Linked DNA regions of Homo sapiens: region 2 is linked to region 1. Evidence: fine-mapped expression QTL. Tissue or cell type: macrophages. Region 1 holds a variant in brackets; the other region holds the start of a gene. All regions are shown on one strand. Distances are between the middles of the regions.

What was found. PIP is the estimated chance that this variant, and not a neighbour inherited with it, causes the effect.
Region 2: it holds the start of VEPH1, and the variant in region 1 is the best candidate, but not a certain one, in a credible set for the expression of VEPH1 in macrophages (Alasoo 2018, PIP 0.53).

Annotation. Positions count from the first base shown.
Region 1 is chr3:157,520,897-157,526,288 of GRCh38, reverse strand. No RefSeq gene overlaps it. Among named protein-coding and RNA genes, the nearest start is that of VEPH1, 20 kb to the right of the region's middle. The variant T/GAT (reference allele first, on the strand shown) is at 2,600.
Region 2 is chr3:157,500,587-157,505,978 of GRCh38, reverse strand. It overlaps VEPH1 (ventricular zone expressed PH domain containing 1), which reads left to right and starts at 2,563. Exons shown (of 14, transcript NM_001167912.2): 1 at 2,563-2,702. RefSeq lists a silencer at 2,536-2,770.

The DNA of each region.
Region 1 (5,392 bases):
ACACATTTGTATATTTTAAAAGAATAAAACAAACGCATATGTTCCCTCTAGCCTACTTAAGAAATAGAAAATGACTATTTCAGAGCTGACAATGTGCCCCTCCAATAACAACTCTGTTCCCTTGCATTTCCACGTAACTCCTGTATTGAGTTTAATGCTAATTTTATTTGTCTTTTTAATAATCTTACCACATATGCCTGTGCTGCTAACATATTGCCTAATATACTTAAATATAATATTTTCTGTCCTTGCATTTTATATGAAAAGGATCATTCTATATGGATTCTTCTGTGATTTGCTCTTTTCACTCAACATTATGATTTTAATGTTTATACAAGTTAATATGCATAGATTTAGTTAATTTTATTCCTACGTGCTATTTCAGTGAATCTATCACAATAATTTATCCACTATACTGCTTATGGACATGTGGATTGTTTTTTGTTTTTGAATGTGAATAAGGCTGTTTTTACGGATCTCCTGGTGTTCACGGGCAAGAGCTTCCCTTGGTAGACACCTGGGACTGGCATTGCCAGGGACAGGCACGTGCTTCTTCCGTGTCATAAAGTACTGTCATATAGTTTTCCAGAACAGTCTTATCAATTTGCATTCCCACCATTGACAATAGTAACAAAAATAAGGTACCTAGCAAAAAAATGTACAAAGCCAAATATGAAATAAAATAATTTATTGAAAAACATCAAAGAAGACCTAAATAATTTTGGAATTATGGCAACCTTATGAATGTGAAAATTTAATGTAAAAATGTTAATTCTTCCCAAATTATCTGTACATTTCATACTCTTTCTCTCCTTCTTTCTTTCTTCCCTTCCTTTCCCTTCCCTTTCCTTCCCTTTCCTTTTCTGTCTCACTCTGTCACCCAGGCTGGAGGGCAGTGACATGATCACAGCTCACTGCAGCCCTGTCTCAACCCAGGGTCAGTCAATCCTCCCACCTTAGCCTCCTGAGTAGCTGCCACTACAGGTGCATGCTCCCATACCTGGCTAATTTTTCTATTTTTTTTGTAGAGATGAGGTTTCACAATAATTCCCAGGCTGGTCTTGAAGTCCTGGGCTCAAGCCATCTGCCCACCTCAGCCTCCCAAAGTGATGGTATTACAGGTGTGAGCTGCCACACCTGACCCGTACTATTTAATTTAAATTTAGATAGAGTTTTACATGGAAGTTGCAATCTGATTCTGAAGTTTACATGGAAATGCTAAGGGCCAAGAATCACTGGAATAATTTTGAGAAAGGAAAAATAAGGCAATGTGCTCTACCAAATATGGTAATTGAAACAATGTGGTATTGGTGCAGGGATAGACTATATTCTAAAAGAACAAAACATATTATAGATTCTAGAATCAGACTCTTCCCTAGAAGAAAATGGTATATGTGAAGATGGCAGTACAGCTCACTGGAGAAGGGATTCACTCCTAAAACAAATGGAACTCTACTAATTGATTATACAAAAATAAAATTTTTTAAATACAGATCCTTATATTCCACCACAAACAACTGTCAATTCTTTGTGGATTAAGGACTTAAATGTGAAATGCAAAACTTTAAAAACTTTTAGGAGACAACAAAGGAGAATATATTTATAATCATGTAGAGAAGGATTTTTAAAATAAGACACAAAAAAGCACAAAGCATAAAGAAAAATTTTATAATTTTGACTACGTTAAAATAAATACATCAAAGGAGATTTAAAAATATCATAAATAGATCAAACTTTAAGCCACAGACTGGGAGGACATATTTGAGATACATATACAGGAAAAAGAACACATAAAATACATACAAAGAGCACTTATGCATCAAGAAGAGAAAGATCAAGAATCAAATGGAAAAATAGGCAAAAGATATGAATAAACACTTCACAGAAGAAAATGTGAATGGCAAATAAATACTGAAAGATGTCCAAATTCATTGATGAGGACAAATTTGAAAACAAGCACTATTAACTGTTAATAATGATGTAAAGAACTCTCACCCACTGCAGATGAGAATGTAAATCTGTACAGCTATTTGGAAAATAAATAAGCATTTTCAGTAAAGTGAGATATTCACATATCCTATGACCCAACAATGTCATTGCCAAGAGAAACACTTGCATGTTTGCATTAGGAGACATGTATAAGGATGTCCAAAGCTGACTCTTGCAGTTGCAATAGCTGGGAACAAGTCATATGTCCATCAAAAAAGAAAGGATAAAATGAGAGAAAGACATACAGTGGAATACTATGCAACTGTAAAAAGTAAATCATCCACAGCATCATAGGATGAATCACAAGAATGGAATGTTGAATGAAAAACATTGAGTCACAGAAGAATGTGTACTACATTACCACATTAATATTAATATCTCAAAACATGTAAAATAGAGAAACAAATAGGTTATAAAACTATGACGCAAAAAGCAAGAGAATGATGATATACAATTCAAGCAGTGCATTATTTCTAGATGAGAAGAAGGAGGAAAAATTGGGGAGTGCATACATTCTAATTGCAGTTAGTGTCTATTCCTTAGCCTGAGTCATGAGTATATGAGTGTTAATGTCATCATTCTTTAAATTATATATTATACATAATCTATA[T/GAT]TATGTATAATATATAATGTTATTCTTTATATATAAATATACATTACATATGCTCATTTGTATATGTTGTAGAACTCACAATTTTAAAAAAAGAAATTATGCAAGTAACAAATATGGCAAAATTTGTGAAAGTGTCACTTGATTAACCAAAGAAAGGGTCATTCTTTTCCAGAACGAAAAAGGAGCTGTGACAGCAGGATATGCACTGCCAGAAGTTCCAGCAATTCTTTGGGGACACCAGTGCATACATAAACATTTGGCAACTGACACGAAATAGATATTTAATAGAGTTGGAAAAGGGCCGGGCATGGTGGCTCACACCTGTAATCCCAGCACTTTGGGAGGCCGAGGCGGGTGGATCACTTGAGGTCAGTTCGAGACCAGCCAGGCCAACATGGTGAAACTACAAATACAAAAGAACTAGCTGGGCATGGTGGCTCATGCCTGTCATCCTAGCTACTTGGGAGGCCGAGGCAGGAGAATTGCTTGAACCTGGGGCACGGAAGTTGCAGTGAGCCAAGATCGCACCTCTGCCCTCCAGCCTGAGTGACAGAGTGATACTCTAAAAAAAGAAAGAAAGAAAGAAAGAAAAATAGTAATAACAATAATAAAGTTGGAAAAGGAAGTAAGTGAGGAACAGAGGGGAGAAAGGCAGAGAAAGGGGAAGAAAGAGGCTAGCTGCCCTCAGTTTGTAAATAATTGATTCTACACAATAAATAGATTCCTTGTTTGGAAAGAGTTCAGTGCTTATTTTCAAGGAGGGAGAGCTCTATTCTCTTGTAGAATTTAGCCCATTGTGTCTTCATGTTACTAATGGCTATACTGACAGCTATAGTACACCATGGAGACTTGCTTGTCAAACATTAACTACTATGCCATGTTATTATAGATTTTTTTTCTGATAGAGTAATCACTACTACTTATATGGAATGACAGAAGCTGCCTGATAGTATTTAATCTAATTTGAAAATACAAGAAATAGCCCAGCTATGTAAGACATAGAAAGACCCAAAGGGATTTTTTTTTTTTAAGTCAGAACAGGAAAGGAACCATTAAACATATAACTGAACTCTGACAGACTGCACCTTTTGCTTTGGTTTCATGGGAATTGGGGTTGCAGGTAAATAATACAGTATGTTGATTGTATGCTTGAATCTGCATTTTCAATTAAGTTTTAAAAGTTGAATAAATACAAAATAATATTCACCACATATTTCTTAAGTACAAACAGGATAAAAAAAGAAAACTTACGTACATATCATGCAGCTTTTAGAAAATAGAACATTAATGCAATCTTAAAGCTCTTCGTGTATTCTAGCTCCTCAACATTCCATTATCCTATGAGAAATAATGACTATCTTGAATTTTATTTATATCATTCCATGTTTTTATTTCTAGTGTTATATATTTATACATATTCTTAAACATTAACATCTTTTCTTACACATTTTTGAACTTCATGTAAATATAATCATAGTGCATTTTTCTACTATAACTTGTTTTTTTAATTCAGCACCCTGTTTTTGAGATTCATCCATGTTAATGTGTCTATAATTATGTATGTGTCTATAATTCATTCATTTTCATTGCTCTATATAATCTCACTGTATGAATATCACAACTTATTTACTCATTTTCTTATTAATGGTTATTTAAGTTGTTTTCAGTTTTTTGTTATGACACTGTGAAGTTTTTTGTATATGTGTCCTGGTTTTCATGTACAGGTTTCTCCAGAACTATTCCTAAGGAGTGAAATTATTAGGTTATATGACACGTGCATCTGCAACTTCATTAGATAATCTAAATTGTTTTCTAAAGCAATTTACTAATTTGTACTCCCACTAGTATTGATTGAAAGTTCCTCTTGTCCATATCGTCACTGGTCACTTTTTTTTATTTTGAGACGGAGAATGCCCTGTCACCCAGGCTGGAGTGCAATGGCGCAATCTCGGCCCACTGCAACCTCTGCCTCCTGCGTTCAAGCAATTCTCTGCCTCGGCCTCCCAAGTAGCTGGGATTACAGACGCCTGCCACCATGCTGGCTGATTTTTTTTTTTTTTTGTATTTTTAGTAGAGATGGGGTTTCATCATCTTGGCCAGGCTTGTCTTGAACTCCTGACCTCATGATCCACCCATCTCGGCCTCCCAAAGTGCTGGGATTACAGGCGTGAGCCACCGCGCCTGGCCTGGTCACTTTTGACACTGCTATGGGTTAGTATTCAAGTCCTCTGATGTATCCACTTAAATCAGCATAGCTGTGATTTAGTCATTATACAGATCACACACTTAGATCTACACCCACTACCTGAAGTCAGTGGCTCATATTGAATTTGGCTATGGTCTCCTCTGGATATTGATCAAAAAGCAGGACTTTAAAAGGTGGATAATTCTTGTTTTTCCAATAAAGTGCTGATTGACAAATATGAGAAAAAAAACATGATGTTAGTAGTACACATAAAATATTGTATTTGGCACTGCTGGAAAAATCACCCAAGTTCTGTGGGTTTCTGACTTTGTAACTACAAGATATTTGGATCAAAGTATACTTATTTTAGGTGACATATGAATTCATAATCCAGGGGAAAAAGTCTCATAAAAATAACAACATTAAATATATCTTACAAAAGAACCATTTAACTTGGCAAAATATTAATGAAATAAAACACATGGGTTAGATTTCCCTTAAAATACACATAGGAATAAAATGTGCTCAACAAAATGTGCTCTGGCTCTTGCCAAACAAGAAACATCTGAAAATAACCTAAGAGACTTTCTTAAACCACAGCATGTTTC
Region 2 (5,392 bases), 20 kb after region 1:
TACTAGGGAGGCTGAGGTGGGAGAATTGCTTGAACCCAGGAGGCAGAGGTTGCAGTGAGCCAAGATCGCACCACTGCACTTCAGCCTGGGCAATAGGGCGAGACTTCTTCTCAAAAAAAAAAAGAAAGAAAGAAAGAAAGAAAGAAAGAAAGAAACTTGACTGTCATAGTTCATGCCACATGCTATTTTGCTGAGCCAAAAGGGAGTTCCTGGCTGTGTCTGAGTTTTTGTGCCTGCAATGGACTCTTCAAAGCTGGAAGGCTGACCATAGAAATGGTGTGCTTACAGGAGCTTTCATGATTACAGGTAAGAAAAACTGTTTATAGAAAATGAAATCATTCAGAAGTTCTCAGTGTTTATATGTAACTCACCTATGTAAGTTGCCTTAGAATTTACCTCTTTTCTGTAAAGAAAACGTCTTTGTCTGATTTTGTGGTTACAGACAATGTTTTATTTCAAGTTTCCCAAAGGAGGGGAAGGAGTGAGAGTTAGACAAGAACAGAGGGGAAAAATAAAGACAAAGCAATACTCTGTAAAACTGATTACTCAAATACATTTTTGACAAACAGGTGTAATATCTGGTTGCTGTTGCCATTCTGCCACCAAGAAACCTGATGACTTCATTTGGGCCTCTTCAACCAGCTGCCCCTAAAGCTAGCAAGCTCCACCCTTCAGTGTCCACTGATAAATTCCTTAATAGCGTAAGTGATTTTAGGAAATTTTTGAAAATTGTGTATGAATGGATGGATTCCATGACAAGGGTATTGAGGTCAAATGGTATGTGGCTAGGTACTGCCAGGCAAGTCTAAGAGATTAAATTTAATTATTTTGGGGGACTCAAGTATTGAGGAAATGACTATGTAGCTGGTTAGGAAAAAATAATTTAGAAGGTCCTGTTTTCAGGTACACTGAATGACTACATTCCTTTCCAGGCCTTTCTTGCATCTGCTAGTTGTCAGAGGAAGCCTGTGGTTGTCACTGAAGGAGCCCATTTGTCATAGATAGTTCCTGTTGAGTCTCTTAGTCCACTTAATTTTCAATGAGCTGCACCCAGGAGAGACTTCCCACAAAACTAGGTTAGGCTGATTCTGTCAGGTGGAAATTTTTTAATGGTAAATGGCAGAAAACCCAATCTAAAATCACTTAAGCTATTAAGGAATTTATTAGTGTACACTGAAGGGTAGGTCTTGCTAGCATTAGGGGCAGGTGGTTTAAGGGGCCCAAATGAAGTCAACAGTTTTCTTGGTGGCAAGAGGGCAATAGCAGCCAGACCTTACACCTTCTTATCATCAAGTCCAGCAGCTTAGACTTTTTACTCCCAAAGCTGAGCTTTCATCATTGTCCTCTCATTGGCCTAGAAGGGGTCGCACACCTGCCCTGCATTAGTCACTATGATCACAGGAATGCAATTACTCTAATTTGGGTAAGACCAATTAAGGCCCATCCTGTTTATGGGCATCAGCTGTACCCAAAGGACATGGTTTCCCAAGGGAAATTTGGGTGCAGTTTTGACTAAAAGTAGAGTAAGTGAATGTTGAGTGTCAAACACAAGAGAAAGTAATCTTCACCCCATGAGTAGTCCTTTTAATTGGACTAGTAATTTTTTTACATGCAGCATGATTGCCACTGAATGGAAATATTTTTATTTCCACTTGTACATCTTACACCTGACTTTCCCCACTGCAGCCCCCGCCCCCACCCTCCCTGTTACCCTCACATGGTTTGACTGAAAGTTCCGGTCGGGAGAGACTCAGAAATGTTTTATCACTTTATGTGAAGGCAAAACCTCAGATCAATAAGGGAAGAAAGCCCATGCCATACACTTAAAGGGAGAGAAGAGCCTCTAGATATAATAATCCACTGGGCACCACCAATTAATTTATGCATTAGAGGTTTTAAAGTGCATTCTCCTTAAAAGAGAGAGAGAGATGAGGCGATGTGGGAGTGCTTGTGAGGGATCCCCAATGAATTAGGTTTGAAAAGATGAGTTCTATATTTGGATGGTAAAAGGAAGGAGTTAGAAATTTGAGTGGATGCAAGAAGGAACCATGAGGGTTCAGAAAAATCTCTAGTGCTACCAGGGAAGTTTCATTAAGTTGTTGTGTGTTTCGTAAGCAATACCAATAGTATAATTAGACTTTTGCTCCTTTACCCTAGCTATTTTGCTTCTCTTGTGGTATTTTTCTTCTATCATATTTGGCTTAAATACCATTTCATTCCAGTGCTTCCCTTCCTGCATTCCCTCCCCAAGCCTTTTTCCTGATGCCTGCTAAAAGGCCCCACATCTGATATTAACCTAAAACTTCCTTGATTTCTTAAAGTGAGTTATTCATTAACAGAACCTAAATTACTGGTTGTTAGGCAAATCTAATTCTTTCAAACTACAGATCTGCTCAGAGAAATCTGTAAATCTAGTGTAGAAATAAGTGAAGCTTTGCGTCAATTGTTAGGTCTAAGCAGAAGTTTGGGAGAGAGAAGAAAAGTTACTCATTTGCCTGATTCCGCACGGTGAGTCAATGGGGAGGGAATGAAATGTACCACTGGCTTGACAGGCAGCTCAGGGAGACGCGGCTGCAGCCCACAGGACTGGGCAGCAGCTGCAAGGCTGCCTCTGAGCATGGTCATGGGTCCCAGCTGCAGTGCTCTAAAGATCAAGGATTTTGCCTTCTATTTTCTATGACCAGAGATTCCTGTGCAAAGAGGTATGGCTATCTTCTTTCATGACCTTTTGTTCAGCAAAAACAAAAGCTAATTAAAGTAAATGTCAGAGGCTGCAAAGAAGCAAAGAGTGGGGGATAGGAGAATGGAGCTGAGAAACTTCCAGGGGCTGGCTGATTATGCAGATAAAGCACATTTGGGAGCTGTGTGTCTAGCCATGTATGCAGGCATTTCGGTTATTAGAGTAAAAATGCCACTTCTCTGTGGGTTATTAAAACATGTCTCTAGGCCTCAGGAGCAGAAAGCTGTGCTTCTAGATTCATATCATGTGCATTTTTGTTTTACTCCGTAATAATCTAGTCTCATTTCTATTTTATACTTTTGTTTACTTCAATCAACATTTTGCAACCAGCAAAGAAACTGGCTCTGCCTACGGATTTTCAAAGAAAATTAAATATTATAGCATCATTACAGTCAGTGGGTTGAACAGGGTCACCATTACTGTTTGTTGCTGCTGCCGTTTTTTCCTTTGGTGTTTCAGATATCTTACAAATCATAATTAAATCTAACCACTTTTTTACTCTTTCAGATACACACTTAAATTGTTGTAGTAATCAACCATTGGATTAAATGACATTTATATATTTTTGATTTAAAAAGCAGAAAAAAATATTTAGAGAAATATTTGAGTTGGTCATATAGATATTTGGTACATGAAACTTAAATGTAAATGAAGATACATTTAACATTGAGTTTTCCATGTAGTTTGAGAGTTTTGGTACATTTTCTGGAAGAACAAACCCACGAATTTGAATTAGGATTTTTCAGCAAGATTTGTATTATTCCAGAGCAAAAATGACCAACAAAGTCAACATTTACAGGTGAAAATGAATACACTATAAAATTATGACAAGTCACAAAAGCCTTGATTTTAGAAAGTTTATTAGACTTGAAGATAAGTGTTTCTCATCCTTTTTGAAGGAAATGTTTCCTATTTGTGTTTTAATAAGTTGAAATAGGTAATCAAAATTAAGTAGTTTTTTGGGCTCTTGACTAAATAGGTCACCAAATCTATTTTTTTCATGTACTTATGAAATAAGCCTGCTACAAACTTAGATCGTATGTACTCTAGCAAAAAGACAGGGCTGAAGCCTTTAGCATTGCTTAGAATAAGCCAGACTCAGAGGCTTTCAGTAGAAGTGAAGTGTAGCAGCACGCCACAGCCAAGGAAGCCCAGAGACATCCAGGGAACAATAGACATCTTGTGGGAAGGGCTGAAATGTATGCAGCCAATTCCCATGGGAACGCCTGTAGTCCTTTCACGCTGTGTGAAAAAGATGCTCCTTCAAAAGAATCTGTAATCCTTTCTTTCAAGGGAAAAATCTGAGAACTTTATTGAAAGTTTCTAGAGCCCAAATGGGTCTAAGTTTGTTAATGAGCATTTTTAATACAGGTGAATAAAATGAAAATGTTTTGATGCAGAGTAATGTAGTCTAAAGCGTAATGTAAATAAATATTGTCATTCTAGAATTTTCTGAAGTGAGGAAGCCAGGGTATACCCTAACCTAAGTTGCAAGCTAGAGGCTGAATTCTTCAGAATAAGTTGGTTTCTTGAGTTAATTATGGTGATTGAAATCTCCCCCAAGAGTTTCAATTATTCTATAGGCAGTATCCCAATAGTGTGGCGATTAAGTCCTCCAGTTCATGTATATTTTCATTTAGCAGAATCTACAGATGCATAATAGAGTAAGCCACTAATGTTTTATTAGTGGGCATTGAGTGTACGTCACCTTGAAAAGTAGTAAAGAAAGTAGCTGGAGCCCTGGAGGGCCACTCCTTTCTCACTAATAAACACGGGAAGGAGTGCTACACTTCCATGGAAAACTCAGGTGTTTGGATTACCCAGCCACAAAAAGTTTGAGATACATTGTATTCTAGCCCATTTCTGCTCTGTAAAAACATTCACTGTTATTGTTCAACCTTGGTGTGGGTAGGATCACCGTAAAACTATCTCTCCAGGAAACAAGATAAGGTTGCCAAAAAATCAACAGGGACCCATTCAAGAGAATGAAGTTTACAGATGAAAAGTGAACAACCCAGAGGTAAGGACAGGATGACTAAGATAGAGAAAGGACAACAAAGATATAAATATGGCTCAAATGGAAACAACCTAAACATCTTTAGCTCTGTGAACCCAATTTAGTGAACAGTACAGTCATGTATTAATTTTTAAAAGGTATGGCATGGGGATGTGTTAACTGGTGGACCATCTATAGGAATAATAGTACTCTTAAGGATATGATTGCTGGCACTTTTTCTGTGGTTGCCATATGCCAGGCTCTGTGTTAAATGTTTTATATCATCTCCTTAAACCTCCCAACAACCCATATCACAATCCTCAGGAGCAAAGGAGGAATTCCAGGCTCAGGGAGTCTAATTAACCTGCCCACATTTACACTGCAGGTAATGGCATAGCTGAGCTTGGAATCCAGTTGAGTCTAGATTCCCATACTCTTATCACTCTGCTCTTCTTACTGGAGTTCCATAGAGTGTCCAATTCAGGACTCTACACCCTTTAAAAAAATAAAACTGGATAAAAATCTAGGGATTAAAAATCAGTAATAATGAATAGAGGATTAAAAGGGAAGGCTAAAGCAATATCATCTATTCCATTAAAAGACGAAACTTCATTAGTATATTGTAAATTAGAAAAACTACTAATGAAAAAATACAG